Homo sapiens: one gene and its partner. The protein of the gene in region 2 interacts with the protein of the main gene of each other region in a pairwise test. Each region holds a gene or a part of one and is shown on either strand. Other genes may lie near its edges.

Evidence for each region.
Region 1: the proteins of UHMK1 (region 2) and DEPDC1B interact in a two-hybrid assay, tested with the Homo sapiens proteins (one study listed by BioGRID).

Annotation. Positions count from the first base shown.
Region 1 is NC_000005.10:60,692,022-60,708,877, forward strand, and holds the start of DEPDC1B (DEP domain-containing protein 1B), read right to left. Parts: upstream 8,146-16,856; 5' UTR 8,073-8,145; coding exon 8,025-8,072; intron 1-8,024.
Region 2 is NC_000001.11:162,495,041-162,511,550, reverse strand, and holds the start of UHMK1 (serine/threonine-protein kinase Kist), read right to left. Parts: upstream 13,734-16,510; 5' UTR 13,551-13,733; coding exon 13,283-13,550; intron 11,597-13,282; coding exon 11,304-11,596; intron 10,639-11,303; coding exon 10,447-10,638; intron 7,798-10,446; coding exon 7,703-7,797; intron 1-7,702. UniProt on the Homo sapiens protein: Upon serum stimulation, phosphorylates CDKN1B/p27Kip1, thus controlling CDKN1B subcellular location and cell cycle progression in G1 phase. May be involved in trafficking and/or processing of RNA.

The DNA of each region.
Region 1 (16,856 bases), on a different chromosome or scaffold from region 2:
TGTCATTTGCAACGACATGGATGGAAGTGGAGAACATTATACCAAGTGAAATAAGCCAGGAACAGAAAAACAAATAATGCCTATTCTCATTTATACGTGGAATCTAAAACAATTGAGTTCAAAGAGGCAAAAAGCAGAATGGTGGTAACCAGAGGCTGAGGGGAGTGGGGAACGGGGAGATAATGGTCAAAAGGTACAAAGCCTCAACTAGACAGGAAATTATCTTTTTTATTTGAGATATCTTGACATCATGGTGAAGATATTAATAATAATGTACTTTCAAAATCTGAGAGTAAATTGCAAGTGTACAACAAAAAAATGTTAAGTATTTGAGGTGATGGATATGGTAATTAGCTTGATTTAATTATTCCATTGAATTCGTAAATCATAACATCATTTTGTACCCTATGAATATATACAACTATAATTTGTCAGTTTACAACTTACAAAACTAAAATTTTTTTTAGAGACCTAAAAAATAAGAAAAAAGGTAGGCAACACTAAGTGCTGGTAAGAATGTGAAAGAACTAGAAATCTCATACACTGCTGTAAGGAATGTAAATTGGTGCGACCAGTTTGGAAAACAGATTGGCAATATCTACAAAAGCTAAATATCTGAACACCTTATAACTCAGCAATTCTACTCCTAAGCATATACCCAACAGAAATCCATATATATGCTCCCCAAAAGACACATTGTTCATAATGGCACTATCCATAATAGGCAGAAACAACCCAAATGTCCATCAACATAATAAGTTATAATATATTCACCAATAGAATGCAGTGAAAATGAACGAACTATTGCTACATGCCATAACATAAATGAATCTCAGAAAATAATATTGAGATGAACAGGCCACATATGAAAAGTAAATACTATATGATTCCATTTACTTGAAGCTCAAAAGCAGGCCAAACGATCCATGATATTTAAAATAATGATAGCAGTTACCTTCATAAGGAGGTAGGGACCAAGTGGGGGAAAGGAGACTTCTGCGGTGCTAGTAATATGATATTCCTTGATCTGAATGTTGGTTACATGGGATGCTCACTTTATGAAAATTTGTTGAGTTGTACACTTTTTATACAACTCAACAAATTTTTTGAGCATTTTTCTGTACATTATGCCTAATTAACACCTAAAAACAAAAACACATACATACACATATGCACATGTTCACATACTAAAATTATTACCCACATGAAAGTTGGCAAATATGAACTGGTTGGTTGGGGTGGTAAACTGGATGTGGAAGAGAGTAGGGAGGTTGGAGAAGAAACCAAGTGAGTGGATGAAGGAGGGAAAGTATGTAAACAGGAAAAGCAGAGCAAAGGCTAAATAATGAATAGTAGAAAGGAAGCCCATAAAGAGTCCAAGAACGCTGATTTAACTTCTCTACCTATCCACCCACTTTACAAGGTTATTGTAAGATCAAATGAGATCATGACTATAAAAGTCCTTTGTTAAAAATGCGTTCCTCAAATTTAAGGATAATATATAAAATGTCCAGGATATCTCTTAAATTATAAGGTTCAATCTATTCTAGAGCTGGAAAAAATCTTTGGGACAAAATCAAGACCTTAGCAGGATACACAACTTAGCAAATGTCATTCAGGTACTTAGTCTGTGAATAAGATCTGGAATCCTGTGCTACGGACTTTTCTTCAAGTAGTCATTTCACTATACCAAGTACCTATGGATATTACCATACCTTTAAACAATTTTCACATATTTTTAATCATTGATTATTGATTTTTTTAATACATGCCCTGATACCTAGCTTTCATTTATCATTAGATTGTTGTACCGAAAAGGCATAATCAAGTATGTAGGGCCGGGGGAAGGGGTAATAAAAAAGATTTTTGTTTATGTTGGTTGAACAATCATAATCATGAACTAAAATTACCTAATGCATAATACCTTATGCATTACATAAACATAATGAAGGCATGGCTCTCTGGGACCCAATATTTCCAAATATCACTAGGTATATCCACTAATTGACCCAGTCTGGTTAGCAGTTCTGTTGTTCTTTTAATTACAGAAGTAATAACACTCATTGAAACAAACAAATTAAATACAGAAGTATACACAAAAGAGTTTGCATGTCTTACTCCATACCTATCACATACAGACACATAGACAGAATTTTTCCTTTGTAGGTGTGTCATTTATTGTTGTTTGCCATTTTAAAAAATGAGATCAATCATGTTGTATATGTTATCCTAAAACACGCTTTTGCACCTAACAGATACCTCCCTGCGTCATACCTGCAGATCTAGCCCATTCTTAAGAATGTGCCATAATTTATTCTGCCATTTTCTAACAAATGGTCATCCAAGTTCTGCCCAGTTCAATTTTTACAAATATGTTACAAGTTATACTTGTTTATATAACCTAAAGTACCAAGGCTTTTGTTTACTTTTGATAGACTTCTAAAAAGTATCAGCATATTTAAATCAGTTGTAGCAATTCACACTTCCACCAACAATGTGGGAGCCTAAAGCCTTACACTTTGGCCTACACTAGATGTTATCATTTCTTTCATTTCTGCCAATCTATGTAAAAGAAATGATAGATCCATATTTTGTTTGCATTTTCATATCTTTACCTTTAGTCATATTCATTTCTTCTTCTGAGATTTGCCATTTTTCTATTGGGTTATCTCTTTTTTAAAATCAATTTTAAGAACTGTTTAATCTGTTAATGTTTAAAGGGCACAGAAGTCAGGAAAGTTAATCGATTTTGTTCAGCTCAATATCCTCACAACAAAGACCAGTGCCTGACATATAGTATACCCATTTAATATGTACTGATGAATATAGAATATTAAACCTTTTTGTTATATGTTACAAATGTTTTATCTTAGCCTATCAATTTCTTTACATAGTCTCTAGCTATACAATGATTTTGTTGTAGATGTTGATGTTTTTATAAGGAAATAATTATCTATTTTCTTTATCAGTTCAGGGTTTATTCTCTTAAGAAAGCTTCCCTATCCTGAGGTATTAAAATATTTATCAAAATTTCCTTTTAATATTTTAGAGGGTATGTTTTTTAATATGTAAACCTTTAACTGAATTTTATATGGTGGGAGGCAGGGGATCTCTATTTTTTTCTGGATGGAGAGTTGTGTTAGTCCATTCTTGCGTTGCTGTAAAGAAATACCTGACACTGGGTAATTTATAAAGGAAAGAGGTTTAATCAGCTTACGGTTCTGCAGAGTGTACAAGAAACATGGTGCCAGCATCTGCTCAGTTTCTGGTGAGGCCTCAGGAAGCTTTTATTCAAGGCAGAAGGTGAAGCGGAAGCAGGCAGAAGGAGGCACATAACACAGCAAGGGGGGAACAAGAGAGAGTGAGGGACAGGGTGCCACACTTTTAAACAATCAGATCGCACATGAACTCAGAGTGAATACTCACTCATTGTCATGAGGACAGCAACAGGCCATTCATGAGTGATCTGCCCCAGTGACCCAAACACCTCCACTAGGCCCCACCTCCAACACTGTGGATTACATTTCAACATGAGATTTGGAGGGGATAAACGTCCAAACCATATCAAGAGTCAATTATGCCATGCTTTTCTAAATGAACAGAAATATTATTAAGTAACCTTACATATCACACTTCTTGATTGTTTCTATCCCACTGAGCGACTATCTGTTCCTGTGTAATACCATACAGTTGTCATTACAGTCAATTAATACCAAGTATAAATCCCTGGTAGGACAAGGCCCCTGTCTTCTTTGTAAGGGAATGTGAAAACTTCTTTCTTTTTTTATTTTTTTTGAGACAGAGTCTCGCTCTGGTGCCCAGGCTGGAGTGCAGTGGCGTGATCTCGGCTGACTGCAACCTCCGACGCCCTGGTTCAAGTGATTCTCCTGCCTCAGCCTCCCAAGTAGCTGGGATTACAGGCATGTGCCACCACACCCAGCTAATTTTTGTATTTTTAGTTGAGACGGGGTTTCACCATGTTGGCCAGGATGGTCTTGATCTCCTGACCTCGTGATCCACCCGCCTCGGCCTCCCAAAGTGCTGAGATCACAGGCATGAGCCACCGCACCCAGCGTGAAAATTTCTTTTTGTGAAGTTCATTTCTTTTTGTGAGGGAAAACTTTTTTCAGTTCTCAGAATTTTACTCTTCAGCATGAGCTTTCAATTCATTGCATTCTCCCACACAGGAAAAAAAAATCCATTAGGATTCAGAATGGATTAACTGCTCTATTGCTACTGACTTTTATTTCATACTAGAAAATGTCTAATAAAACATCTTTATCAAAGTCTCATTGCCCCTTTTAAAAAGAGCATTTATAAATAGACTTTTGAATTTACTCATTTTGATTTTGAATGGCATTTATCATTATGGGTTATATTTCCTTAATATATGAAATACTTTAGATTTTTTAAAGCCTACTGAGGTCACTTTGGTCTCTGTTCCCACTTATTTCCAAATATAACTAAGGGGTTATTTGGCTACTCTGCTCAGAAAGAAAAATAAGTATCTTTAAATAATCTAACAATATACCATTCTCAGTCACTTTTGGAAACAAAATATCCTCTGTCAATAAATAACAAGAAAGAGCTTGAGTTTTTTTTTCATGACATTATATTTGAAGAGAATCTTTACAACAAATGGAACAAAACAGATTTGTTTTATGATTTTAAAACACTTTTTGTTTTGCTCTACTTATTAATTTCAGTCCCCTAGTTTCTCAGGAAAAAATAAAATCACACAATTGTTTTTTCTTAACATGATGAGGCAAACTATAAGACATACACCTACTGCTGTGCATCCTGTTCTTTTCTCCAGGATATTCCATTTCATTTCTTCTTAGTACCAAAAATATTATGATAGCGGTGCTATAAAGAAAACTGACTGGTCTGGGAGTTCAGTGACAACCACTCCTAGATCTACTTGCACTTGCCACAACCTCGTTGTGTGATCTTGCCATTCTAACTCTCAGATTCAATGAAAGCTGTATGTCTTTTAAAATTTATCAGTTGCATCAGACCATATATATAACTCAGAATAAGTTCAAAGATTTAAGCAGTTTCTAGAAAAAAAATTTTTCTCTCTACTTGAATGAACTATTTATACCAAGTTTACAAAGATGAAAGTTATTTCAGTGAAAATGTATAAATGGATAACTAGCTTCACATTTATCATGAGTTGGGGCTGTCATTTGACTTTTGTCATAACATTTTACCTAATCCACAAAATGTTATTTTCAAATAAGACTTTGGTGCTTTAGAAAAAGCACCAAAGAGCTTTTTCTAAAGCTGTACATGCTTTGAGAAAGTAAAGTGAGCCATGAAAGGAGAAAATAAAGGCCTAGTTTTTGTATCCCAATAGATTTTTACCAAGCTTCCCCTGAAGAAAGTTTAGAATGAGCATGATGGGAAAAGGGAGAAATTGTATGCTGCAGATAGAGGGAGGAAAGGCCAACTAGGTCCAACAAGTAAAAAGAGGACTAGTCTCAAACTATTAAATATATGATTTACCTAGCAAAAGCTTTAAGTCACAGCTGAATTACACTGGGGAAACAATTACAGACTTTACAATGGAAAGAAGCATCTTCAATGTTGGCTGCAATCACTGACAGCAGGAATACTCACTTTTGAAAAAAAAAATTGGCTATTGTTTTCTGTTTTCCACATCTTAGTTTAATATTATGTTCCTCAAACACTATGAAGTTGAGAACTGAATTGATTACCTGGGAAATTCTGGTGAAACTGAGGTGTTTGTTTCATTAATTATCCATGTCATTTATCTTCTTAACTTAATCAACCTAAATTTAGCCTGAATATTATTTGTTAGGGACTGAAGACTTCTAGAGAGCAGAGAGCACCTTTTTTTAATTAAACAAATTCCTTTGATAATATTTTAATGTGACTCAAGAATCCAGCACTATCTATATATGGACCCTCTGCATCCATGAAAAGAAGTACCTCATACAATTCTGTGAATATGAGACTAAAATACAATTCCAATTATGAGGTATTTTTTTTTTAGTCTAATGCAGGAAGAATGAAGACTAGTCACGTCAAGAACCACAGCCTTGCTATGTTTTCCTTGTGTAAGTGCTGTAAATAAATTGGTGAAGGGAATGATCAAATGCCTTATTTTCCTCCCTAAAGTTAGACTTATCAATATTCTTGACCCCAGATCATTCTGGTGTCTATACTGTATAGAGTGTTCGCAAAGATGAGTGCAATGATTCTTCCCATCCTCTCCACATGCACCTCTGTGGCTTTGCCACCCTGCCCATCAAGAAGTGGAGTTGAATTTCTAGAATCTGGATTTAGCTGTTTAACTTGCTTTGACCAATGAGATTTGAAGAAAAAGTCACAAGCTGAAACTTCCTTTTAGCTACGTTGGAACCATGAGACCACTACGTGAAGATGCCTCCGATAACCTGTTAGAGATATCTGGCCCAGGTAACAGCCAGGACCAAGTCAAGCAGCCATCTTCCATCATCCAGTAATAGCCAAGTCACATTATTTGTGGCACATGAGTGACCTCCACAAAAGAACCATTGACATGAGTCTAGCCCAGATTACTGATCCAAAGGATGAGCAAATAAAATGCTTGTCTTTATGCCAAATAAAACAATGTCACAGACTCTCCCAATCTCCTTATTATTTTTTTTTTTTTTTGAGATGGAGTTTCGCTCGTTGCCCAGGCTGGAGTGCAATGGCGCGATCTCAGCTCACTGCAACCTCTGCCTCCCAGGTTCAAGAGATTCTCCTGCCTCAGCCTCCTGAGTAGCTGAGACTATAGGCGCATGCCACCATGCCCAGCTAATTTTTGTATTTTTAGTACAGACGGGGTTTTGCTGTGTTGGCCAGGCTGGTCTCGAACTCCTGACCTCAAGCGATCCATCCCCTTAAATCATGTAAAATTTCATGAGTATGTGCCATGTGCAGTTTTCTGTGAAGAAGATCCTTAATCTTCATCAGATTCTCAAAGCGATCTATGAGCCAAATTTAAAAAGTAAAGACCCATCAGCCCCAACTATGATTTCTCTTCCAGAAGCTGGCCTTCTCAGCTCTGGCTTGACTTACTGGTATAGTGTGTGGCTGGCTTTGGAAAGAAAAGGAAACTCTATTTACATTATCTGTATCCCAGCATCCTCACCTCTTCCATGAGTCTAGCTGAGTAAGAGTTTGGATGTTAGTTCCCATCTTTTCCTGTGTATTCATTATAATGCATGGAACTATGAGAGTAATTCCCATGTTAAATGTGGCCAGAGAGGTCGGCAGACCAAGGAGCAAGTTACTGTCCTCCCAAATTACCATTACACTTCCACAGAAAGTCCTCTAAAAACTTGCCACAGACATTACCAAACTGTCACCCTTTATTGTTCCAAGTCAAAGCAGACCAAGTACACCTCAATACCAAAGCTTTTCTCCCAGAAAAAAAAAAAAAAAAAAACAGGAACTCAGAGTCGGCAAAGACTCTCCTAAAACATCTGTCCTGGCCAGCTCTTCATCTGGATCGGTGCTGACAGAAACAGAAACGCCAGGGGCCGGAAATGCGGCCAGCGCGATGCCCCTCTGTTCTGGGCACCGTTTATTCGAATACCCCGTCAGGTATCATCAGGTGTCACTCAGGAAGGAGACACGCCCTGCCTGGACTGCCGCGAACGCTGAGCGTTACGGGGTACGTGGTGGCCCCTCAGGTTACCGACCGGGTCGGTTAGATTCCAGAGGACAAAAGGCAGGGAACAGCCTGGTCTTGGGGTCTTTAAACAGAGAGGCGCCATCTACTGCCGAGAACCCAGTCAACATCTCATGGACAAAGCTGCACTAACCCCCGGCCGGCTGAGCTCTGGGCCCCGTTAGCCTTTCTTTGAGGCTCGTCCACTAAAAGGCAGCCCCAGTAGTCCCAGCTGAAATGCTCCACACCCGAGCCCCGCTGGCCTGCGGAAGCGAAGACTGACAAGCACTCTGTCCGCGCGCTGAGTGGGGGCTCGCGGCACCGGGTGCTCCGCCCAGGCCCCAGCACACTCACTCACCAGCCTGGTAGCTCGGTACGGCCCGGGCCCCACGATGCGATGCTCCATGGCGCGTAGGCAGCAGCGGCCGCAGCCGCGCCAGCGCTGATCCCCGCCAGCCGGAGGAGCAGCAGTTTGAATCCCAAGCCCGCGGGCTGCGGGCGCTGATTGGGCGGCGCGGCAGCACGTCACCGGAAATGCGCGGGGAGGCAGGCGTCTTCTCCGAGACCCGCGGCGCTGGGAGCTCCGCGTGCGAACTTGCCCGGGGCGAAATCTGTTGCCCACCCTGGTCCCACCGTGCGAGCACACCTAGGCAGGTGCGACTAAGGGGCCGGGGGCGTCTCCCCAGCGCTGGAAAACGCTGTGCAGCGCCCTTCCCAGATTTCTGCGTCCGCGCAACACAAACACACGCAACGCTATCTCTACAAAAGGGTCAATAATAGGTGTTATCCAGCGACCGAAACCCAGCTTTGGGCCGCGTGGATAAATACCTGTCCTCCCTACCAAGTGCACTGTGAGCCTGGAGGTGCTGCTAACGCTGGGAGAAGCGGTAGTGAAATGAAGCGAGGCGACAGCTTTTACCAGTGTAGGGACATTTAAAAACGGGATAGAGAGCACAAGGAGCGTAGACAGTGTGTTAAGGGCAATAAAGAGCGGGAAGGGAGCCCCGATTCCTCTTCTGTTTGTTCTCATGATAGTCTTTTCCCCTTTAATTTGAGTTCTATGTTTTGTATTGGGCTGATACTTTTAGTCCTCGGCAATAGGGTTGTGAGTCCTTTTTTGACTGCTTAGAATTTTCCCCCTGGGAATTGCTAGTCCGATTTGCAATCTTTCAGAGGGACAAATGAAGTAACTCCATATACTTAGGACTCTGTACACCTACTCAAATTTGGTCATCTCGGTAAGTACCCAGGACAAGACGTTGAAGGAGTGAAGGTGTGCCATTCCAAAATATGCCTAATTGGTATATTGATTATTTCGAGCGGAAAACATTGGAGAAATGGTAGTTTCAGAAAGGGCAAGCTGACCTGCCTCTTCGATGCAGCAGGCCACAAAGATTTCTCTGGGATGGGCATCCTCTCCCTACCACGGTGAGAAAATAGCCTTTATCACCAAAGGCTTGGAATTGAAGGCTGCAGTGGACCTGAATAAACATTCTTAACGAAGTAACCCTATCTTCCACTAGGAGATATAGGAGATTTTTTACATATATCTTCTAGTGACTCCCTAGAAAATGTTACTGCCTTTGTGAGCTGTGGAAGTTAACTCGAGTCACAGGGCACCAAAATATGTTAGCAGCTGCCCATATCCGAGACACGGCCCCAAAGTATGTTACAGGCAGTGAATTCCTACAGATCTGCAGCAACCTCAATTCTTGACTCCTCAGAAGAAAGAGTTCGACTGAGGGGCATAAGGCAAAAGGAGAGACCAAGGCAAGTATTAGAACAGAAGTGAAGTTTATTAAAAAGCTTTGAATGAAAGGAAGTACACTTGGAAGAGGGCCAAGCCAGTGACTTGAGAGATCTAGTGCGTAGTTTGACCTTTTGACCTGGGGTTTTATACGTTGGCATACTTCTGGGGTCTTGCTTTTGGGGCTTTGCATTACTTCTCTCCTGATTCTTCCCTTAGAGTGAGCTGTCCACAGGCGCATACTTGAGCCCACTTGCCCAACTCCTAAGATCTTATCGGGAAGCTGCTGATCAACAGTTCAAGTGTTTTCTATTAGGAGACTGCCTTTCCCTGGTGCCGGCTGTGACCAACTATTATTTTAGAGAGACAATTAACAACCACCTGACCATCACCTGATGGCTGCCTGACATTCCTGATGTGTGTGTGTATGAGGGGGAGCCCTCTCCTGCCCTGCTCATGCCTGACTAGCTACCTACTGTAACACCTTAACCAGATTTTCTTTGTCATGGCTTTTCTTCTCAAATTTATCTCTCTTTACCTAAAAAAATGAATAAAAGCATCTTACTTTGGCCACTTCTTCAGACTTCACTCTCTTGTGAAGATCCCCATGTGCACATAAAACTAATAAAATGTGTATACTTTTCTCCTGGTAATCTTCCTGGTGTCAGTGTGGTTTCTAGATACAACTGGAGAGCTCATTAAGAGGTAAAAGGGAGCTTGGAGGTGATCTCTGGCTCCCCTATAACATCATAAGAAAGATCTAAGTAAGGGATTGGACCACCTCTTCTCATCCTCAAAACCACACCACTACCACCACCCATTTGCTGCCTTAGGTTTTTATTTAGCCCAAGAAATGTCCTGAGATGATACATATATATTGCTTTTGTAATTAGAAAAAGCAATTTAAAATTTTTTTCTTACTTCCAGTAAGTGAATCCTTATCAGAACTTTTTTTCTTTTAACCTCTAAGCTCCATGGAAGAGATCTTCTTGTCCTTGGCAAGGAATATAAAGAGATACTTGTGTCCTTGACACAAGAAGCAGGAGAAAGGGAATTTTAAAGCCTTGTCTGAGACCTGCCACCACCTATCATGGTGGTGAAACTAGAATCTGATACAAAACATTATGTCCAGCATTATGCAGCTTTCTAGTTCGGTAAGTATCACAGACTGTGAAATTCCATAGATCTGGATTTCAATAATGACTGGTACTGCTTACCAGTGGAGTGACTTCAAGCTAATTATTTAATTTCCATCTACTCACTGGTAAACTGGGAATATTAATGATTATCTTGCAGAGTTGTAAGGATGTATGTAAAGTGCTAAATATAGTGCCCAGCATGTATTTAAAGTGCCCAGCATATAGCAGTAATAAAAAGAACTATATATTTTTTTAAAAAAATCATGCCAGCTTCTTGAGCATTTCCCAAGAGCCTGTTATTAGCCATAGACAAGATGGCTGTTACTAGAAAGGCATACTTCCAAAGGATCTACATATCAGAAGACACAAAGAGTCATTGCACGGGCCAGGGACATCTCCCCAACGCTGGACAATGCTGTGCAGCACCCTTCCCAGACTTCTGCACTCACGCAACACAAACACACACACTATTTCTCTACAAAAGGGTCAATAAAATGGTGTCATCCAGCGATGCCTCATGCCTATAATCCCAGTACTTTGGGAGACCAAGGCAGGTGGATCACTTGAGCCCAGGAGTTCAAGACCAGCCTGGGCAACATGGCAAAACACTGTCTCTACTAAAAATACAAAAATTATCTGGCTGTGGTGGCACGCTCCTGTAGTCCCAGCTACTCAGGAGGCTGAGGTGGGAGAATCGCTTGAACCTGGGAGGTGGAAGTTGCAGTGAGCCAAGATCGCCCCACTACACTCCAGCCTGGGTGACAGAGTGAGATCTTGTCTCTAAATAAATAAATAAATGCCTCAAAGAAATCGAGGTTTTACATTTGTTCATTCACTTATTCAGCAAGTATGTAAGAATACACTACTGTGTGTCAGGTATAATTCCAGTCTGAAATCATGCAATAGATAAAATGCAGCTTCTAGGAGCTGACTCCTAAGTAGAGGAAGGGATGACAAGCCAGCTATAATACATTCAAATATGTATTATATATCAGGTGGTGATTGAGTACTGGGAAGAAAAGTAAAAGACTAAAGTGGAGAGGGTGGTAGGGGGAAGTTGCTGTTTTGGTTCAGGTGGTCAGAGAAGGCATCTTTGATGAAATGACATCTGTGTAGACGATCTGAGTAAAGTAAGGGGTAGTTGTCTGGGGAAGAGCTTCTAAGCCGAAAGAATGAGCAGCCCATGAGAAACTTCCAGGAGACATGGGAAGGAGGTTGGTGCTGACTAAAGTGAGGGAGTAAAAGGGGCAGTGGAGGAGATGGAGTTGAATACAGAGTGGAGTGGGGCTTTCAGACCACATTATGGGCCATGGGATTCTGATCCTCTTCTGAATTAGTGAAAATATATTAGAAAGTTTTGATCAGCAGAGTGATCAAAACAGATCACAATCACTCTATTGATCTTTGGCCAATCATTTTGGCCAAATCACTCTGGCCATTGCGTGGATACTGGACTCGGGTAGGCATTGAGGGTGAGAGAGGAGGCAGGAAAACCAGTTGAGGAAGCTGCTACAATACCTCACTGGAGAAAGTAAACATATTTGCTTGGTATGGTGCTTGGCACATAGTGGCATTCAACAACTATTTACTGAGTGAGTAAATGAGTGAGCAAATGTATTGCTCATGTAGTGTATTCTTACATAAGCTTTAGAAGTTATTCATTTCTTAAAGATCAATTTGATTCATTCATTCTGTTTGCCATTTCTCATATGAATATGGGCAACAAAATAATAGCTAGCTTTTACATTTTTATTTTAATGTATCAAATTTGTTTTTAAAACTCTTACTTTTTATCATTAAAGTCCTCTGAGATTTTGAGTTTGGGAAAATACAATCTGCACATACTCCATGACTTGTGTTATAATTGCCCCTCCACCTCCTGCCGCCTCACACACCATTACAGTACAAAGTTAGCATAATAAAACCTGTGCCAAGGAATATAGCTAAATGGATTTTCATATTTGAGAATAAGCTCAATTTCTGACACATCGCAGCTATGCCATGTAGCACATATGGTGAAGTATAATTCTCTACACCTCAGAAAGAGACGTAATGAAAAAAAATTTTAATTAACATTGATCTGGCCAAGAAATATAGGATGAATTAAAGGAGGAAGATTCTGAAGATAGGAAAGCCATTTGGAAGACAGCTGAAGGAATATAGGCATGGAATTCCATGAGTAATAGAGTGTTATGAGAAAATACCCACATAATCTTGAGCAAGACTCACCTTCTCTGATTATCAGTTTCCTCATCAGTAAAATAGAAATAATAATGGTACTTGCTTCATAGGGTTGTTGAAAGACTTAACTGAGGAAATATATACAAAGCTCTTAGAATTTTGTTTCCCTTATATGGTAGGCAGAATTCTAAGAAGGCCCCTATTTCAGAAAAAGAGAACATATATGTACATAATATACATATATGTACAGACAGAAAGAGACAAAAACAGACAGAGATTTATTAAAAGGAACTGGCTCACATGACTATGGAGCCTGATGAGTCCCAAGATCTGTAGTTGGGAAACTGAAAACCCAGGAGACATGATGGTGTATTTGCAGTCCAAGTTCAAAGATCTGAGAAACAGGGCCAATGGTATAGCTCCAGTTTGAAGTCTGGTAGGCTTGAGACCAGGAAGAGCTGATGTTTGTTTCAGTTTGAGTTTAAAGTCAGGAAAAAAATTGTTCCAGCCTGAAGGCATTCAGGTGAAGAAATTCCCTCTCATACAAGAGAGAAACAGTCTTTTGTTTTATTGAAGCCTTCCACTGATTGGATGAGGCCCACCTATATTAGAGAGGGCAATCTACTTTAGTCTATTGACTTACATGTTAAACTATCAAAAATACCCTCAAGAAATACTCAGAATAATGTTTGACCACATATCTGGGCACCCTGTGGCCCAGTAAAGTTGCACAAAAAATTAACCATTACAGCCCCTGAGATCCCCAGCCCCTGATATACATAAACCTTCTTCCCATTATTCAACCAAACACTAATCTAGACACTGCTGTAATGGGATTTTGCACATGTAATTAAGGTTGTTGATCTTGAGGTAGGACAAATATCTAGATAGGCCTACTTAATCATATGAGCTCCTTAAAAGGAGAGAAATTTCTCCAACTAGTTGTATAAGGGAAGCCAGAACTAAATTCCACCAACCTGAATGAGCTTGGAAGCAAATTTTCCCCTAGAGCCTCTACAGGAGAACTCAGCTGGCTGATGCCTGGATTTCAGCCTCCCAATACCTGATACATTGAACAGAAAGCAGCCACACTGTGCCAGATTTCTCACCTACTGAACTGTGAACTAATAAATAGGTGTTGCTTAAAATCCAGTTAATCTGTAGTAATTTCTTATGTACCAACAGAAAACTGATACACATTTTACATACAAAACTCTGAAATGCTTGTTCTAGTTACTCTATGGCTGGAGTAGGAATGGGAGAAAAAAATCAATATTTAATGAGTAATTATTTACAAGGGATGAGGGAGAAGAAAACGTCAAAGATGGCTCTAAATATATTCTGGAAAGCTGGCAAAAAAAAAAAAATTGTGCCATTAACCATAAGGAAAGAAGAGTTGTCTGGGTAAGCAAGAAGGAACATGGAGAAGGGGTCTCAGACTTTCCTGTGCATAAGAATTGTCAAGGTTCTTATGCATAGTAAAGCGCATAAAACTCAATTTTATGGATTCCACCCACAGAGGTAGCTAGAAGTACCTAGATTCCATAGCTAATTTGCTGTTTGACTATTTGCTAGTAGCTCCAAAGATCCATGACATGTACAGATTTCTAATTTTGATGAATCAAAAACTTGAAATCCCCACCTTGGGGGATGGAGTGTAAGAGAATATCATCCAGCTTGTAATTAAGCCCATCCAGCCACCTGGAATCCTCAGCTCAATATGGCTTTCTACTTTTCTAATAGAGAAAAGTAGAGTTAATCTCTACTTTTCATGCCAATGCATGTTACCGGAAAAAATATTTTGTTATACTGATATTGGATAATTCACACAAGCCATTGGACTTATTCCTTATACATGCCAAAGGCCAAAAGAAGTCGATACTTGGACATGCAGCATTCAAATGAGAATGAAATATCCAAAGAGAAATAACCCATATTTGAAAATACTAGATGAAGAGGTTGGGTACAGTTGGGGAAGTTAGAGGGAGGAAGAATAGAGAGAGGAACAGAGGACCTTACCAATGTCCCATTTCAAGGCTTTTGGTTTATGGCCTTGACTGACCTGTTTCTCTGGCCCTCATACTACTGCCTCACCCCTGTGTCTAGACTTATCTTCCTACACCTGGCTCTTCATGTACCACAATCTCTCAGCCTTCCCTGGGCCCGTGATAAATCTTATGACAGGGGCTTGTCCCATTCTTGGCTCCAACCCTGGAGACTAAAGTTCTGGACATTCATCAAAGACCTTCTCCTCTATTTTACTTTTAAAGGCACAAGATTCAAGTTTCTGCCTCAGCAGAATTACAGATCATTACATATTACTGAACTTTGGGGCAGCTGACAAATAGTCAAACAATATATTGTTTGATATCCAGTATTAGTAGATCAGTTGTCTGGCCCATGGCACCTAAGCTCAGTTTTAAAAGAAATGAAAAAAGTAAGATAAAATTATTGGCATTTTTTAAAGATTCATCACAAATGGTCCCTGAAATAGCAAGTGTACTTAATTTAGCTGGGGGGAAAAAAACTCAATTAAAAGTTTAAAAAGGAAGTTAGGGTAGAAGGGTGGGGAATATATAGAACTTTTGGGAAACACTACTGCCAGATCCTACAGACACTTAGAAGAAGTAAGGTGCTCAAGGCAGAGGGTGCTTCCTTCAGGGCAAGATATTTAACAGGAAATTTCTTACACCTGGAATCAACAGTAGAGCATCCTGTGTGCCTAGGCCCATGGACCACACGCACATGCAAGAACCCAGAATCAGAAGTGGAGAGTAGCCGGGTGCACAATCTCAGTGACTGGAGGATTGCTTGAAGCCATGAGTTTGAGACCAGCCTCAGCAAAATAGCGAGACACTTGTCACTACAAAAAAAAAAATTTTTTTTTAATTAGCCAGACTTGGGGGCACACACCTGTGGTCCCAGTTACTGAGGAGGCTGAGGTGGGAAGACTGTTTAAGTCCAGGAGTTTGAGGCTGAAGTGAGCTATGATCATGCCACTGCACTCCAGCCTGGGCAATAGAGCGAGATTCTGTCTCTAAAAAATAAAAAATAAATTTTAAAAAATGGATAGTGGTCGGCGTCACTAAGCCAGAAACAGGATGAAATTGAGATTGTGAGCAAAAGCAGTTGGGGAACAAGGAAGGTCTGTGAGCTGGGGTTGGGGCAGGGTGTCTGTATGTGTTGGGCTACCTTGAAGGGCTAACAAAGGCAACAATGGTGATTGTGTTCGCCCCCAACACTGCTGCTCTTATTTTCTTGCACAGCCAAGCAACTGAAACTTGAAAGGTTATAAAAATATAAAAAACAAAATCATTTTAAGCTTTTGTCCTTACTGATGATGATTAGATTTTATATTTTTCTTTTATTTATTCTTAAAGGTTTTAATGAGAATTCAAATGTAGGCTTATCATTTAATCATATTCAATGTTTTGAATCTGATAAATCCTCTGTGGTATAAAAATACACATTTTATTAAAAGACTTTTTAGAGTAGTTTTAGGCTCACAGCAAAATTGAGAGGAAGGTTCAGAGATTTCTCATATACCCTTTTACCCACATGTGCATAGCTTCTCTCATTATCAACACCCTCCACCACAGTGGTGCATTTGTTACAACTGATGTTTTAACTTTTCACTGGGTTATAATACATTGATATATATTTCTTTTTTAGTAGGAATCTAAGTCCCTTCCCAAATCTTATGTGAAATTGTAATCCCCAGTGTTGGAGGTGGGGCCTGCTGGGAGGTGACTGGATCATGGGGGTGGTTTTCAATGGTTTAGCATCATCCTCCTAGTGCTATTCTCCTGAGGGAGTTCTCATGAGATCTGGATAAAGGGTATAGCACCTCTCCCCTTTCTCTCTTCTTCCTACTCCCACCATGTAAGATGAGCCTGCTTCCCCTTTGCCTTCTGCCATGATTGTATGTTTCCTGAGGCCTCCCTAGAAGCTGAGCAGATGGCCAGCATCATGCTTCCTGTACAGCTTGTGGAACTGTGAGCCAATTAAACCTCTTCTTTATGAATTATCATCCCAGGTTTTTCTTTATAGCAATGCAAGAATGGACTAATACACACATATGGAGAAAAGTACACAAATCTTCTTTATATTTCTTGGTGAATTT
Region 2 (16,510 bases):
ACAACTTACAGAATGGGAGAAAATATTTACCAACTATACATCTGCTAGGGGAGTAATATACAAGATATATAAGGAACTCAATTTGGCTGGGTGTGGTAGCTCACATCTGTAATCCCAGAACTTTGGGAGGCAGAGGTGGGAGGACTGCTTGAGCCCAGGAGTCCGAGACCAGCCTGGGCAACATGGCAAGATCCTCTCTCTACAAAAAAATTTAAAAATTAGCTGGTGTGGTGGCATGCATCTGTAGTTCCAGGATCACTTGACCCTATGAATTCAAGGCTGCAGTGAGCCATGTTTACACCACTGCACTACAACCTTGGCAACAGAACGAGACCCTGTCTCAAAAAAAAAAAAAAAAAAAGAAAAAGAAAAAAGAAAAAAAGAGCTCAAATAACTTTATAGCAAGGAAACAAATAGCCCAATTAAAAAATGGGCAAAAGACCTGAACAAACATTTCTCAAAAGAACACATAAAAATAGCCAACAGTATATGAGAAATGCTCAATATCGCTAATCAACAGGAAAATGAAAAACCAAAACCACAATGAGGTATCACCTCATACCTATTACAATAGCTATCATCAAACAGACAAAAGACATAAAGAAAAGGGAATCCGTACACATTGTTGGTGGGAATATAAATTAGTAAAGCCATTATGGAAAGTAGTATGGAGGCCCCTTAAAAAAAATTTTTAAAAAAGAACTACCAGCAATCCCACTACTGGGTATATATCCAAAGGAAATGAAATCAGTATGATGAAGAGATACCTGTAGGCCCACGTTTGTTGCAGCACTATTCACAATATACAAGATATGGAATCAACCTAAGTATCTATTAACAGATAAGTGTTCATTTCTTGCATGTTAGCTTAAAAAAAAAATTAAAAAACAGATGTGTAAAAAGTAAAAAAAAAACAAAAAACACAGATGAGTAAAAAAAGAAAATATGATATATATATACACAATGGAATACTATTCAGCCACTGAAAGGAGCAAATCCTGTCATTTTCAACACAGATGAACCTGTAGGGCATCATGTTAAGTGTTATAATAAGCCAGGTCCAGAAAGACAAATACAGCATGATCTCACTCATATGTGAATTCTAAAAAGTGTTGATGTCACAGAAGTAGAGAGAAGAATGGTGTTACCAGAGGCTGGGTGGGGGCGTTAGAGGAGAGAGGAGTTTGGGGAGACATTGGCCAAAGCCAAAAGATGCCTAATTACAGTTAGATAGAAAGAATAAGTTCAAGAGATCTACTGCACAACATGGTGATTCTAGTTAATGATGATATATTGGATTCTTGAAAAACATAGGGAGTGAATGTTAAGCACTCTCATCACAAAAAATAACTATGTAAAATAATGCATTTGTTCATTAACTAGATTTAATCATTCCATTATGTATATATACTTTAAAACACGTTGTACATGATACATACAATTTTATGTCATTAAAAAAAGAAGACCGAGATGCTGTTATAGTCTAATAAAATTAATGTATCTCTATATAGCTACTGAAGTGTTTGTGGCATAAAAAGACCATTATTTCCTTATTGTAAGTAAGCATTTATAAAGTAAAAATAAGCCACTTAAAAAACAAAAACTAGGCCAGGCGTGGTGGCTCACGCCTGTAATCCCAGCAATTTGGGAGGCAGAGGTGGGTGGACCACTTCAGGTCAGGAGTTTGAGACCAGCCTGGCCAACATGGTGAAATCCCGTCTCTACTAAAAAATACAAAAAATTAGCCAGGCATGGTGCTGTGCACCTGTAGTCCCAGCTATTTGGGGAGGCTGAGGCAGGAGAATCACTTGAACCTGGGAGGCGGAGGTTGCAGTGAGCCGAGATCGTGCCACTGCACTCCAGCCTGGGCAACAGAGTGTGACTCCATCATACACACACACATACGAAAAAAAACCTATAGTGCCAAACTATCAATAGTTGTAAGATTTGCACTATATTGGCATCTATGTGTAAGAAGGCAGAGGAAAGCTACAATTGATCTGATGAACCAGAAAAAAAATAAACCCAAACAGCCAAAAGGTACTCACTGGACTGCACAGCAAGATGCTGGAGAAAAGCAGCTGAAACTATAAGGGGTTATACATTCTAATACTAAGTGAATACAAGCAGTTCTTTGTAAAATCATAAGAGGTTGGAGTAATCTAGACACTAAGACCTCTTAAAACTAACCAGCCAAAGCTTTCTTTCAGTGCAAAGTCCCACAGTGAGAAGAAATCTTGGGAACACAATCCAAATTGAGCAGGATGAGGGGAGAGAGAGAGGCACCAGAAAAAAGCAGAAGAGAAGAGCCAGGAGATCTCTGAAAAAAGCCACTTTTTGGGGAATATTATACAAAACAACAGAAGAGGGAGCCCTATATAAGAAAAGTTATCCCAAGTATATTTTCTTTAAGTTTAGGAAAATAATTTTCACATAAAAATGGGCAACATAAAAAGGATTATAACTGACTGTGCGTGGTGGCTCACGCCTGTAATCCCAGCACTTTGGAAGGCAAAGGCAGGAGGATTACTTGAGCCCAGGAGTTCAAAACCAGCCTGGGCATCATAGTGTGACTTTGTCTACAAAAAAAATAAACCAGGCATGGTGGTGTATGCCTGTGGTCCCAGCTACTTTGGAGGCTAAGGTGGGAGGATTGCTTAAAGCTGCAGTGAGCTGTGATCACACCATGGCACTCTAGCCTGGGTCACAGAGTGAGACCCTGCCTTGAAAGAAAAGAAAAGAAGAGAAAGAAAAGTATCTATTGTACAAAAAAAAAACTGCAAAATGATAAATCTCAGATAATGTATGCCAGAAAGATATGACCATTATAATCTACTTTTTTTTTTTTGAAGACAGAGTCCTGCTCTGTCACTCAGGCTGAAGTGCAGTGGTGCAATCTTGGCTCACTGCAACCTCCGCCTCCAGGATTCAATCGATCCTCCTGCCTCAGCCTCCAGAGTACCTGGGATTACAGGCAGATGCTGCTAGGCCCAGCTAAATTGTGTTTTTAGTAGAGACGGGATTTCACCATGTTGGCCATGCTAGTCTGGAACTCCTGACCTCAAGTGGTCTGCTCACCTCAACCTCCCAAAGTGCTGGGATTATGGGTGTGAGCCTACCATTTCAAAATGAGCTAAATGGCCAGGCGTGGTGGCTCACGCTCATAATCCCAGCACTTTGGGAGGCTGAGGCAAGCAGATCACTTGAGGTCAGGAGTTCCAGACTAGCCTGGCCAACATGGTGAAACCTTGTCTCTACTAAAAACATGAAAATTAGTTGGGCCTGGCAGCATCCGCCTGTAAGCCCACCTACTCAGGAGGGTGAGGAGGGAGGAACGCTAAAACCTGAGAGGCGGAGGTTGCAGTGAGCACTGTGCCACTGCACTCCAGCCTGGGTGACAGAGTGAGACTTTGTCTTCTCCTCCCCCTGCAAAAAACTCAAATGAGCTAGACATTTTTAAAAAACGATATAAGATGTGAAAGAGCAACAGAAAAAAAATTGAAAATCACAAAAATAAGGTAATAGAACTCAGGAAAGAATTAGACATTTTAAAAATCATTTCATAAAATAAAATTACACTATAAGAGATACAAGGATGAATAAACATAACAAATAATGTCTTAAAGAGTAGGCAAAAAGGAGGATATTTTTAAAAATAAAAAAGAGGCGGGGCACGGTGGCTCATGCCTGTAATCACAACATTTGGGGAGGCCGAAGCAGGCGGATCACGAGTTCAGGAGATCGAGACCATCCTGACTAACATGGTGAAACCCTGTCTCTACTAAAAATACACAAAATTAGCTGGGTGTGGTAGCGGGTGCCTGTAGTCCCAGCTACTCGGGAGGCTGAGGTAGGAGAATGGCGTGAACCCGGGAGGCGGAGCTTGCAGTGAGCCGAGATCACGCCACTGCACTTCAGCCTGGGCGACAGAGTGAGACTCCGTATCACAAAAAAAAAGAAAAAAAAAAAGAAAGAATGGGTTGGGGGTGGTGGCTTATGCCTGTAATCCCAGCATTTTGGGAAACTGAGGCTGGAAGGTCACTTGAGTTCAAGACCAGCCTGGCACATGGTGGGACCTCGTCTCTTAAAAAAAGAAAGGAAAAAGAGATAATATAGAATCAAGATAAAATGGCAGCTGGGCGTTGTGGCTCACGCCTGTAATCCCAGCACTTTCGGAGGCCAAGGCAGGCGGATCACGAGATCAGGAGTTCAAGACCAGCCTGGCCAATATGGTGAAACCCTGTCTCTACTAAAAATATAGAAATTAGCCAGGCATGGTGGCAGTAGCCTGTAATCCTAGCTACTTGGGAGGCTGATGTGGGAGAATTGCTTGAACCCAGGGGACAGAGGTTGCAGTGAGCCGAGATCATGCCACTGTACTCCAACCTGGGCAACGAGCAAAAACTCCGTCTCAAAAAAAAAAAAGAAAGGAAAAAATGGCAACATTGAATATAAGGCAAAGAAAATCAAACGTATGTAGACGAGGAGGACATGAAAGTGAAAACCAAAAAGAACAGAAAAAATATTTAAAAACTGTAATTTAAGAGACATACCGTATTTCTGAGAATATTGACCCAGAACAATCAAAATCAAAATATATTTTGATAAAATTACTATACATGGAAGAAAAAGTTAAAATCCTCTGGGCATCTAGACAAGAAGACCAAGTGACTCTTTTTTTTTTCTTGAGACAGAGTCTCCCTCTGTAGCCCAGGCTGAATTGCAGTGGCACGATCTTAGCTCACTGCAACCTCCACCTCCCAGGTTCAAGCAATTCTCTGCCTCAGCCTCCTGAGTAGCTAGGATTATAGGCACGTGCCACCAGGCCCGGCTACTTTTTTTGTATTTTTAGTAGAGACGGGGTTTCACCACCTTGGCCAGGCTGGAAGACCAAGCGACTTTTAATGAAAAGGCAATTACTGAGTCATCAAACTTTCAACAGAAACACATGCAGTAATATATAGGACACTCAAGGAAACAAAAATGTATGAGATTGGGATGAGACACATACAGGACTTCCAGGGTGACAGGAAAAGTTTTATTTCTTGGTGTGAATGGTAGTTACAAGATGGGTACAATGTTCCTACAGATTAAGCTACACATTTGTTTAATTAGTGTTTTTAGTGTCTGTGCTTTATTCAACAACAGCAACAAAAAAGGTTCAGCGACTTGCATGCATATATAATGCAATATGCAGAAAAATAGTGGAAGGAAATATACCAAAGTGCTAACACTAGAATGTGGGTTTATAATTTTTATTTTCCTCATGATGACTTTCTATAGTTTCCAAATTTAGTATTCTATGTAAAATGGTGGGGGGGGGGGGGCTATTATTTAAAAAAAATAAAAATAAGAAAGTCAATACTAGAACTTAGATGAAAATTTAACTTCCAGGCTAGAATCCATTTTATAATTTTTCATTCCCATCTCTTCAATGTAAAATGCAATTTATAATATCTCATATCAATCAGATACTAACAGCTATTTAAAACTAATTTGAAAAACACACACAAGTAAGTATGCGTAAAACTGGTGAAATAGGAATAAATCATGTGGATTATACCTATTTCAATTTACTGGTTTTGATACTGTATATACTACAGTTATGTAAAAAGTTACCACTGGGGGAAACTGGGTAAATGGTAGGGACCTCTCTGTAACATTTTTGCAAAGTCCTGTGAGTCTGTAACTATTTCAAAGTAAAGAGTTAATAAAACTAACTTAAAGGTTTATAGGGCCAATATTCAAAGGAAACTATACTACTCTAACTCAGACAAGGGATCCATACTTTTCTAGCATACTAATTATTTTATTCACTTCCAGTCCATAGTCTAGAAATCTGAAAAACCTACTATTTAATAATACAGTCATATACTGCACAATGACGTTTTGGTCAACAATGGACCACATATATGACAGCGATCTCATAAAATAATACTGAGCTGAAAAATTCCTATCGCCTAGCGACATCGTAGCTATCATAATGTCCTATCGCAACACATCACTCACATGCTTGTGGTAATGCAGGTAATGCAGGTGTTGCGGTAGGACATAGATGTAAACAAAACTACTGTACTTGATAATGACAATACATAGCTGTGTTACTGGCTTATGTATTTATAACTATATATTTTTTTATTCCTACTTTAAAGTACATCGCCCTCCCCCAAAAAGTTGACTGTAAAATAGTCTCAGGCAGGTCCTTTGTGAGGTATTCCAAAAGAAGGCATTGTTAACATAGGAGATGACAGCTCTATGCATGTTACTGCCCCTGCAGACATTCCAGTAAGACAATATGTGGAAGTGGAAGACAATGATATTGATGATCCTGACCCTGTGTAGGTCTAGGCTAAGGTGTGCTTGTGTCTCAGTTTTTAACAAAAAATTTTAAAAGTAAATAAGATAAAGAAAAATTAAAGTTTATAAAGTAAAAAAGTTACAGTTAAGCTAATTTATTATAGAAGAAAAAAAATTTTGGCCAGAAGCGGTGGCACACACCTGTAATCCCAGCACTTTGGGAGGCTGAGGCAGACAGATCACTTGAGGTCAGGAGTTCGAGACCAACCTAGCCAACATGGTGAAACCCCGTCTCTACTAAAAATACAAAAATTAGCCGGGCATGGTGGCATGCACCTGTAATTCCAGCTACTCAAGAGGCTGAGGCACAAGAATCGCTTGAATCTGGGAGGCAGAGGTTGCAGTGAGCCAAGATTGTGCCACTGCACTCCAGCTTGGGTGATGGAGTGTGACTCTGTCTCAAAAAAAGGAGAAAAAATTTTAAAATAAATTTAGTGTAGGCAAAGTATACAGTGTTTACCCTTAGTCTTATAGTGTACAGTAATGTCCTAGGCCCTCACATTCACTCACCACTCACTCACTGAATTACCCAGAGCAACTCCAGTCCTGCAAGCTCTATTCATGGTAAAGTGCCCTATAAGGTATACCATTTTTAATCTTTTATACTGTATTTTTACTGTATCTTTTCTATGTTTAGACACAATACTTACCATTGTATTACAACTGTCTATAGTATTTGGTACAGTAACACGCTATATAGGTTGTAGCCTAAGAGCAATAGACTGTGCAATATAGCCTAGGTGTGGGCAGAAGTCTGTATCATTTACATTTATGTAAGTACTATATGATGTCAGCATGGCAAAATCACCTAATGACATATTTCTCACAACAGATCCCTACTGTTAAATGACACGACTGTACACATTTGTATTTTCAAAATATCTATTGTTTTCGGATCTATTCAGATATCAGAAAAACTGTATCTGTCCCCAGACCGTTGTCAAGAGTAATTATTTAAAGTATAATAAAAAACTATCTTATTCGAAATGGTTTTTGGGTCTTTTTTTGGGGGGAGGGGAGTAGTCCAAAAGCAAACTCAATCTTTAGTTAAAAAAGACTCTCTTTAAAAACCTGCTTTCCATCAAGTATCCAGAACTGCCAGGGCTATGAGTGGCCAAAGGTACAGTGAATCTATCTTCCAGTGAAAAGGCAGCTGCCAGGAAAAGCTTAACATCTGATACTATGAGCAAAAGAGCATTCCTTTGAAAACAAATTTGGTAAAACTATTTCATTACTTATGTTCCTTACATAGAAATAATAATATAAATCTGTTCAGAGAAAAAAAAGACGTACCATTTCACATAGTACATGAATGCAAAGCAAGTTTATGGTACGTGTAACATACCTTTTGATAAGGTCTCTTAGGTGATAGGCTGGAATTGCGGCATTCACCACTGCTTTACTGGCAAATATGTGATCAATAATAGCAGAACTGTTTGCCTTAAAAAACGGAGAAAAGTTTTCCTTTGGTTATTCAGTCTGTATTTATTGAATACTAGGCATATAGCACTATTTGAGAGTAAAATGCAACAGAAAACACTATCTTCTGAGAGCCTACAATCTTTTTTTTTTTTTTTTTTTTGGAGACAGGGTCTTGCTCTGCCACCCAGGCTGTAGTGCAGTGACGCAATCTCAGCTCACTGCAACCTCTGCCTCCCAGGTTTAAGTGATCCTCCTGCCTCAGCCTCCTGCGTAGCTGGAAATATAGGTGTGTGCCATCACATCCAGCTAATTTTTTGTATTTTTTATAGCTATGGGGTTTCACTATGTTACCCAGGCTGGTCTCAAACTCTTGGGCTCAAGTGATCTGCCCACCGTGGCCTCCCAAAGTGCTGGGACTATAACTGTGAGCCATCGTGCCCAGCAAGAGCCTACAATCTTAACAGAGGAAATAATATACATAATTACACACTTCTGGAGAAGAACATTTTTTTCTTCATTTTCAGCGCCTAGCACTCTATGAACATCTACTAGATGAAAGAATAAAAAATAAATACCGAAGTAACCACATAAGAATGTAGTTTAATGCAAAAATGAATGTATAATAGGTGACTCAGGGTATCTCCGTAACGAGTCTTCAATTGGTTTTCAGGCAGAAATAAACTATCAAAGCGAATATGATGCAGTATTAAAACATCTTATTTGTCATATTACTCATTCTCTAAATCTTTACAGAATATATTTTCTCCTTGAATACTATGCTAACTCACAATTTAGAACTGTGTACATGAGTTAAAAGAACAGATACTATCATTATCAGTAAAATTTATTAAATACTTACCATGAGCTGTTTGCTAAAAGTATCATTTCTTTATTAACCTCAGTAGTCTTATGAGATAGATGCCATTATTATCCTCATTTTAAAGAAAGCAAACTATGGCTTAGTGAACCTAAATAAATAACTTAGTAAGAGCTTTGTGGAGGCAAGATACAAACCCTAGTAGCTTGACTTTAGAGCCTATGCTCATAATCAGTTGGCAATTTTGCCTCCATAGAAAGGGATAAAACAGAAAAATAGCGTTTTATCTAGAGGCATATATTGGAGATCCCATTACTACACATCACCCCTCTAAATTTCACACAAATTTGAATGTGATCTAGTTCTGATGAGCTCTAGGCCAAGCAGATATAGTCCAAAAGGCTCAAAGACAGTCAAAACTCATTCAAATAACTGATCTATGTCTGGATTAGCACCAAGAAAGAATACGTAAGACTCTTGATTGTTTGGGATATCAATAATAAAGAATGATACTGATTTTACTCCCAAGAAAGCAATTTTTACCCATAAAAGCATCAGGTACATACATTGGGCTATTAAAATATCCCTTCCAGGAAATGCTACAATGGAAATCAGTGACCAGGTGTTTAAAAGAAACAAAACTATATGTTATAATAGCTATACAGTATGTATTAGATGCTCAAAAAAACACTTGTTGCTTAGTATCAAAAACTTGTTGCTTAATATCTAAGTTCCAAACCTCTAATATTTGAATGAACTTTTTATGCATTTATAAATTAGGAATTAACTACAGTATGTTTTCAAAGGTATTGTGGGGCTTTAATGTTGTGATAATATCAGTATCCTTTAGGCTACTGTTTAAGTGATCCTCCTGCCTCAGCCTCCTGGGTAGCTGGGACTACAGGTGTGTGCCATCACACCCAGCTAATTTTTTGAGGTTTAATAAATACAATGTTTTGGAATGATTATTGTTCTTGATATTAAACAAGTATTAAAATACCTTTTATAATTTTTTTTTTTTTTTTTTTACTAGAGACTGGGGTCTCACTACGTTGCCTGGGCTGGTCTCAAATTCCTGGTCTCAAGTGAGCCTCCCACCTCAGCCTCCAAAAGTGCTGGGATTACAGGTGTGAGCCACCATGCCCAGCAAAAATATTTTTTAACTGTAAAGCAGTTAAGATAATCTATAAAACTTATCATTTAACTTATAAGCTATGGTTGTATTAGTAACACTTTAGAACTTAATATTACTGTTAGTAAACAAAAGAAACCACTTTTGTTTCTTCAGGAAAATGCATTCATTCAAACATTTTATCAAGCACTTACTATATGCCAAGCCACAGGCTAGGAACAATAAGAATGCAATACTCACTAGCAGATTGATAGCCATAGGAGTTGGTAGTGGCATTCAAGTATCATCAATAGAAAAAGAGGAGTATGGACAACAGACAGCAATCAAGAGTTCTCTAAAAGAATCATCATAAATTGGCCAGGTGCGGTGGCTCATGCCTGTAATCCCAGCACTTGGGGAGGCCCAGGCGGGTGCATCATGAGGTCAGGAGTTTGAGACCAGCCTGGCCAACATGGTGAAACTCCGTGTCTACTAAAAATACAAAAATTAGCCGGGTACGGTGGCTGGCGCCTGTAATCCCAGCTACTCAGGAGGCTGAGGCAGGAGAATTGGTTGAAACCGGAAGGTGGAGGTTGCAGTGAGCTGAGATTGCGCCACTGCACTCCAGCCTGGGTGAAAGAGTGAAACTCCATCTCAAAAGAAAAAAAAAAATCATCATAAATTGAATACTCTTAAGTTGAAAGTAAGGACCCCAAAGCAAAGCACTGGTGAAGTTTACCTTCCATTCCTGAGATCTGACTGTATGTTTCAGTTTCATTCCTGAGAACATTTCCAGTAAAATGATTCCTAGGCTCCACAGATCAACAGCTGAGGTACATTCTGTATCACTCTGCAGGCCAGCCTGGGCCAAGCAATTTTGCAATTCTGCTTCTGGAGCCCGATACCCGTCTGTCTGAATATACTTTACATCCTAAAAAAGATGAGTAAATATTACAACCAATAAAAAAGCTGCTCCCTTTCTATCCATCTCTACAGTGAATTTACTTCCCTAAGAGTGCAGTAAACCCACTGCCAAGCTAAATGCTAAAAATTTTTAGTCCTTGATTACCATAATTCTTTGGTTCATTAACTGGGCAGTTCTCAGAGGCAAGCTGTACATTTCCATATAGCGCTCATAAAGAAGTCTTCTTTGGATTGTCTCTTACCTATTAGGCACTGCTGATAATAAGGACACTGCAAAGAAATGATAAACCATGGAGAAAAGAGGATTTGGCAGAACTATCATATGCATTCTGCCACGAGATACAGCCCCAACACTGAAGAGACCAGGAATAGTAACTCAGCAATTAGCCAAACACGCATAAAATTTAAAAAACCATTCTATGTAGGTTAAGTACTTTTAATAATTCCAGAGCTCTCATGCTTCACTGGCTCCTCCTACCTGACCCAAACATTATGTCCTTTTTTTACACGGTGGCACTGAAATTCTTTTGATTTACTGCATCCCCTGGCATTTCAGTAATTTAGGTTAAAATGACTTGTAAGCCCCTACTAAACTACCCTTGTCATTTAAAAATATTTGGCTTCAACCACTACATTTTAAACTGCGAGAGAAAAGAAAAGGTTATTTCTTACCTGATTGCCTTCTTTGAAGCTAAGTCCAAAGTCAATGAGTTTAAAACATTCATTCTCTGCACTCCACAATATGTTACGTGGTTTGAGGTCCGCATGGACATAGCCCTCATGATGAAGAAAAGCAAGGGCCTCCAAAACATCTCGGGCACAATGCTGTATCATCCACATGGAACAACCCTGGTGACTGGAATATAAGAGCAATTCCGAAACACTGACATCCAGGAGTTCAAGCAACAGACAGCGTGATGGCACATTTGGAGAAAAGTGGATTGTAAACACTCCATACAAAGTCACTAGAAAAAGAAATTATAATACTTTAAAAATCAGACTCAGAGTAAGTCACTACTAAAGTAGGTAACTGCAGTACAAATTTGAGATAGTCTAGATAAGGATAACTTTGATGAGCAAGCTTCCACTGTAATTTATTTTTCCCATGAATAAGATCTTTTGGCAATTGGGTTATTTTAATAAAAATAAGATGAGACAGCCTACAACAGCTGATTACCATTCACAGATACTAAATATGGTACAATTATTCAATTTGTGTTTCACCAAGTACTCATTGGTGATGAACACGAACTTGGAGTGCCAAGCAAAAATGATTAAAAGTAAAAAACCTAAATATAAATAAATAAAACTTACTGTTGCATCATGAGGTCCTTTAAAAAAAAAGAAATTTTTAAAAGTAAAAACCCAAATATTAAGTAACTCTTTTAAAAGGAATGTCACAATGCGCAAAAACCAAACTAAACATTGCTTCTTCATCCAAAACAGCAGTCTAGGTCTGCCACGGTGGCTCATGCCCGTGATCCCAGCATTCTGAGAGACCGAGGCAGGAGGACTGCTTGAGCCCAGGAGTTTGGAGACCAGCCTGGGTAACAAAAGGGGACCTCTTCTCTACAAAAAATTAGCCAGGCTTGGTGCTACGTGCCTGTAGTCCCAGCTACCTGGGAGGCTGAGGTAGGAGCATGGCTTTAGGAGGAATTGGAGGCTGGAGTGAACTGTGATCTCGCCATTGTACTCCAGCCTGGGTGACAGAGTAAGAACTTGTCTCAAAAAAAAAAACTAAAACAAAAATAAACAGCTCTCTATAATCTAAATACTAACAAAGAGATTAAGACTTTTCGGATGAAATTTTAATCTTGCAGAGATCAGGCAAGTCCCTAGGCTTGCAAAATTTTTCCCTTTTCAATACCAAGGTTATAGTAACAGACCATTTAGTAAACTAAAAAAATGTAGCACTAGTGTTAATTCTTCTCCAAAATGATATTATAAAAAAACTCACTCTTCAAATTAACTATGCATCATACTTGCTAGGAAATAAGACTTTTCTTTAATAACCAAAGCTATAACTAATGATAAGCTTTCTGTCGTGTAATGAAAATGAAACCTTTTCACAGATCAATCATCAGTGATCATTACATATCTTACATTCTGAGTATCTGATTCTTGAAACAGTCTCAAGAGAGCAAAGGTATAGTGTTCCTAAATTTCACACTTCTATAAAGGCTCCCATGGAATAGTGCATCATTTCTTCCAAATCCGTACTAAAGATATAATAGGTGAGCTATACGAGTTACTAGCATTGATGTCACAAGGCCCAGACGTAGTTCCCATTTTCTACTGGTATGCAAAGATTCAAAAATTTCCACACAAGACACGACAATCTAGCAAAGACATGCCTCCTCTCACTAGAAAAGATATTTCTGTATGCTAATGAATGCGGCATTCTCCGATGAGACTCGAAGCAAGACAATTTACTGAGCATCTATGTGACACCTGGCAAAGCAGACCACCAACTCCACTATACCGCAGACAGTAATAAAGTGAAAGGGGAAAGGGGCCTGGATGGGGTGATAAAGAGGGCTAAACCCGCTTCTCCCGCAGAAGGGGAGGAAGATGGAACGCCAGACAGCGAGAGGAAGAGTGTGCTCGGACTGTGACCTGGGCAAGAAGAGAAAGGAGACAGCGGCAATTACCGATGTTTCTGTGACCCTGCAACTGTTCCAGCGCCGCCCTCTCTTTGCGGAAACCATACTCGGCGGCAGAGGCCGCAGCCCCGGTGGTTCCTGGCGGCAAGAACTGCTTGAGGGCGCCGGGGGGCGAGCCAGGGTTGCCGCAGCAGCGAACCCGATACACCGAGGCGGAGGAGCCGCTACCCAGACGGCTCTGTACCTGCCACAGCCGCCCGAAGGCCTCCAGAAAACGCGGCGGCTCCGCGCCCCAGGCGCAGCCGGATCCCGCCATCGGTGTGGGTTAAGGGCACGGACACGGGAGCTGACGCGACGCCTGAGGCAGGCCGGCCGGGCCCGCGGTCACATCTCCGCCAGCCGGACCAGCGGCTCCGCAGGGAGGGACCTGCAGCCGCCTCACCGACTCCCGGGACTTCAAGCAGCCATGACACCGGAAGCCGTGGTGCACCCGAGTCCCAGAAGCCGGAAATGGAGGAAGAGCCTATCATACAGGCCGAAGGAGGGGGGGCTCAGAAGGGGCGGGGCCTAGAAGAGATTAGACGCGCTAGGTTTGGAAAAAAGAACCGAGAATAAGAAGTAACCTTAATTATTGAGTATCTACCATTCCAGGCCCAGTGTTAACCGCTTTCACATAGACCTGAAGCCAAAACTGGTCCTTTTTCTTGTTGAGGCACCTCACCTTACCTCACCACTAGGAACCCGAAAAATAAAACCCGGCCTACATTTCTCATAGAAAGGATCCCAAGGAAAACACCCCAGGAACAAAAAGAGAGTTTACCATCACCTCCAGGTCCACGGTCACCAGAACCCATGATTCTGGAAGCCTAGACCTTTGTTCTTCTTTTAGATGTAAACCGAAAATACAATTCTAAGCCCCCCGTGTCGCCAACCATCGGAATGGACTTTCTCCCAGGCCAGGGCACTCTAAAATTCTGGTTCAGTCCATGACGGGAAGTGGGGGTCCGACTAGCCTCATACCTCTCCGGTTAAGGTCAACACAGACCTTCGGTCTGGTAAGAAACATTTACAATCTATTTTCTTGGAAGCCTGGTACCTGGAGGCTTCATCTGCATGACAAAACTTTGGTCTCCACAAGTTCTTATGACAACCCAGACATTCCTTTCTATTGATAACTCTTTCAACCAATTGCCAATTAGAAAAATTTTAAATCTACCTATAACCTGGAAGGACCCATTTCTCCCCCCACCAATTCCCGCTTCGAGTTTTCCCACCTTTCTGGGCCAAATCAATGTATTTCTTAAATATATTTGATTGAAGTCTCATGTCTCCCAAAATGTATAAAACCAAGCTGCACCCCAACCACCTTGGGTACATGTTCTCAGGATCTCCTGAGGGCTGTGTCACAGACCATGGTCACTCATAGTTGGCTCAGAATAAATCTCTTCAAATATTTTACAGAGTTTAACTCTTTTTATCAACATAGTCCACCTTGCCTATGGCTCCCTCATCAAAAAGCATTCACCCTGGGCAAACACGGATCTGTTCCAAATTTTTATTTTTCATTTATTTATTCAATTATTTTATTCATTCAGCAAACGTTTATTGAGTAACAAATGTAGCAAATAGGCATCTCAATCCACAAACTCGAGTGTGTAAGAAATGTAGCCTTCTTTACTTTTCAGTCATTCAACCTTTTCTATTTCAAGATCTATTCTGATTGTGTGGCAAAAACTTAGTATCAGACAATAGGCCCTATCTTCTTTTCTTCAGGTTTTGTGTAAGTTCCCAGCCAGATGAGATGGTTCATGTAGTGCTAAGTGGAAAGTTTGAGGAGAGGTTGAGGACTAAACTCTGACCTGTCTTCTCTCTTGCTCAATTTTTTTTTTTTTTTTTTTTTTTTTTGGTAAGACGGAGTTTCGCTCTTGTTGCCCAGGCTGGGGTGCAATGGCATGATCTCGGCATCTCCGCCCACCGCAACCTCCTCCTCCTGGGGTCCAGCGATTCTCCTGCCTCAGCCTCCCAAGTAGCTGGAATTACAGGAATTTGCCACCATGCCAGCTAATTTTGTATTTTTAGTAGAGATGAAGTTTCTCCATGTTGGTCAGGCTGGTCTCGAACTCCTGCCCTTGTGATCCGCCTGCCTCACCTTCCCAAAGTGCTGGGATTACAAGCGTGAGCCACTGCACCTGGCCCCAAATTCTTATCTAAGGGATGTGAGGAGTCACAGCCTACAAACCATAAAATCTCATCAGATTGTCAGAGGTGTTCAAACCAGAGCAACTCCATCTTGAATAGGAGCTGGGTAAAATAAGGCTCAGATCTACTGGGCTGCATTTCCAGGAAGTTAGGTATTCTAAGTCACAGGATGAGATAGGAGGTCAACACAAGATACAGGTCACAAAGACCTTGCTGATAAAACAGATTGCAGTAAAGAAGCCAGCCAAAACCCACCAAAACCAAAATGGTGGTGAAGGTGACCTCTGGTCGTCCTTACTACTCATTAGATGCTAATTATAATACATTAGCATGCTAAAGGAAACTCTTACCAGCACCATTACAATTTACAAATGGTATGGCAACGTCCTGGAAGTTACCCTACATGGTCTAAAAAGAGGAGGAACCCTCAGTTCCAGGAATTGCCCACTCCTTTCCTGGAAAACTCATGAATAATCCACCCCTTGTTTAGCATATAATCAAGAAATAACTATAAATATGAATAACTATAAGTCGAGCAGCCTAAGCTGTTGCTCTGCCTATGGAGTAGCCATTCTTTTATCCCTTTTACTTCCTAATAAACTTGCTTTATGGACTCATTCTGAATTCTTTCTTGCGTGAGGTCCAAGAACCCTCTCCTGGGGTCTGGATTGAGACCACTTTCCAGTAACAAGATAGGTTGGTTGGTTGGTTTGTTTGTTTGAGACAAAGTCTCACTCTATCACCCAGGCTGGAGTGCAGTGGCGTGATCTCAGCTCACTGCAACCTCTGCCTCCTGGGTTCAAGGAATTCTCCCACCTCAGCCTCCCGAGTAGCTGGGATTATAGGCATGCGCCACCATGCCCGGTTAAATTTTGTATTTTTAGTAGAGACGGGGTTTTGCCATGTTGGTCAGGCTGGCCTCGAACTCCTGACCTCAGGTAATCCTCCTACCTTGGCCTCCCAAAGTGTTAGGATTACAGGCATGAGCCACTGCACCCGGCCACAAGATGGGTTTTGTTTAACCCCATATAACGTGACTTACTTTCCAACCTAACTCTGGCATAACATCACATGACA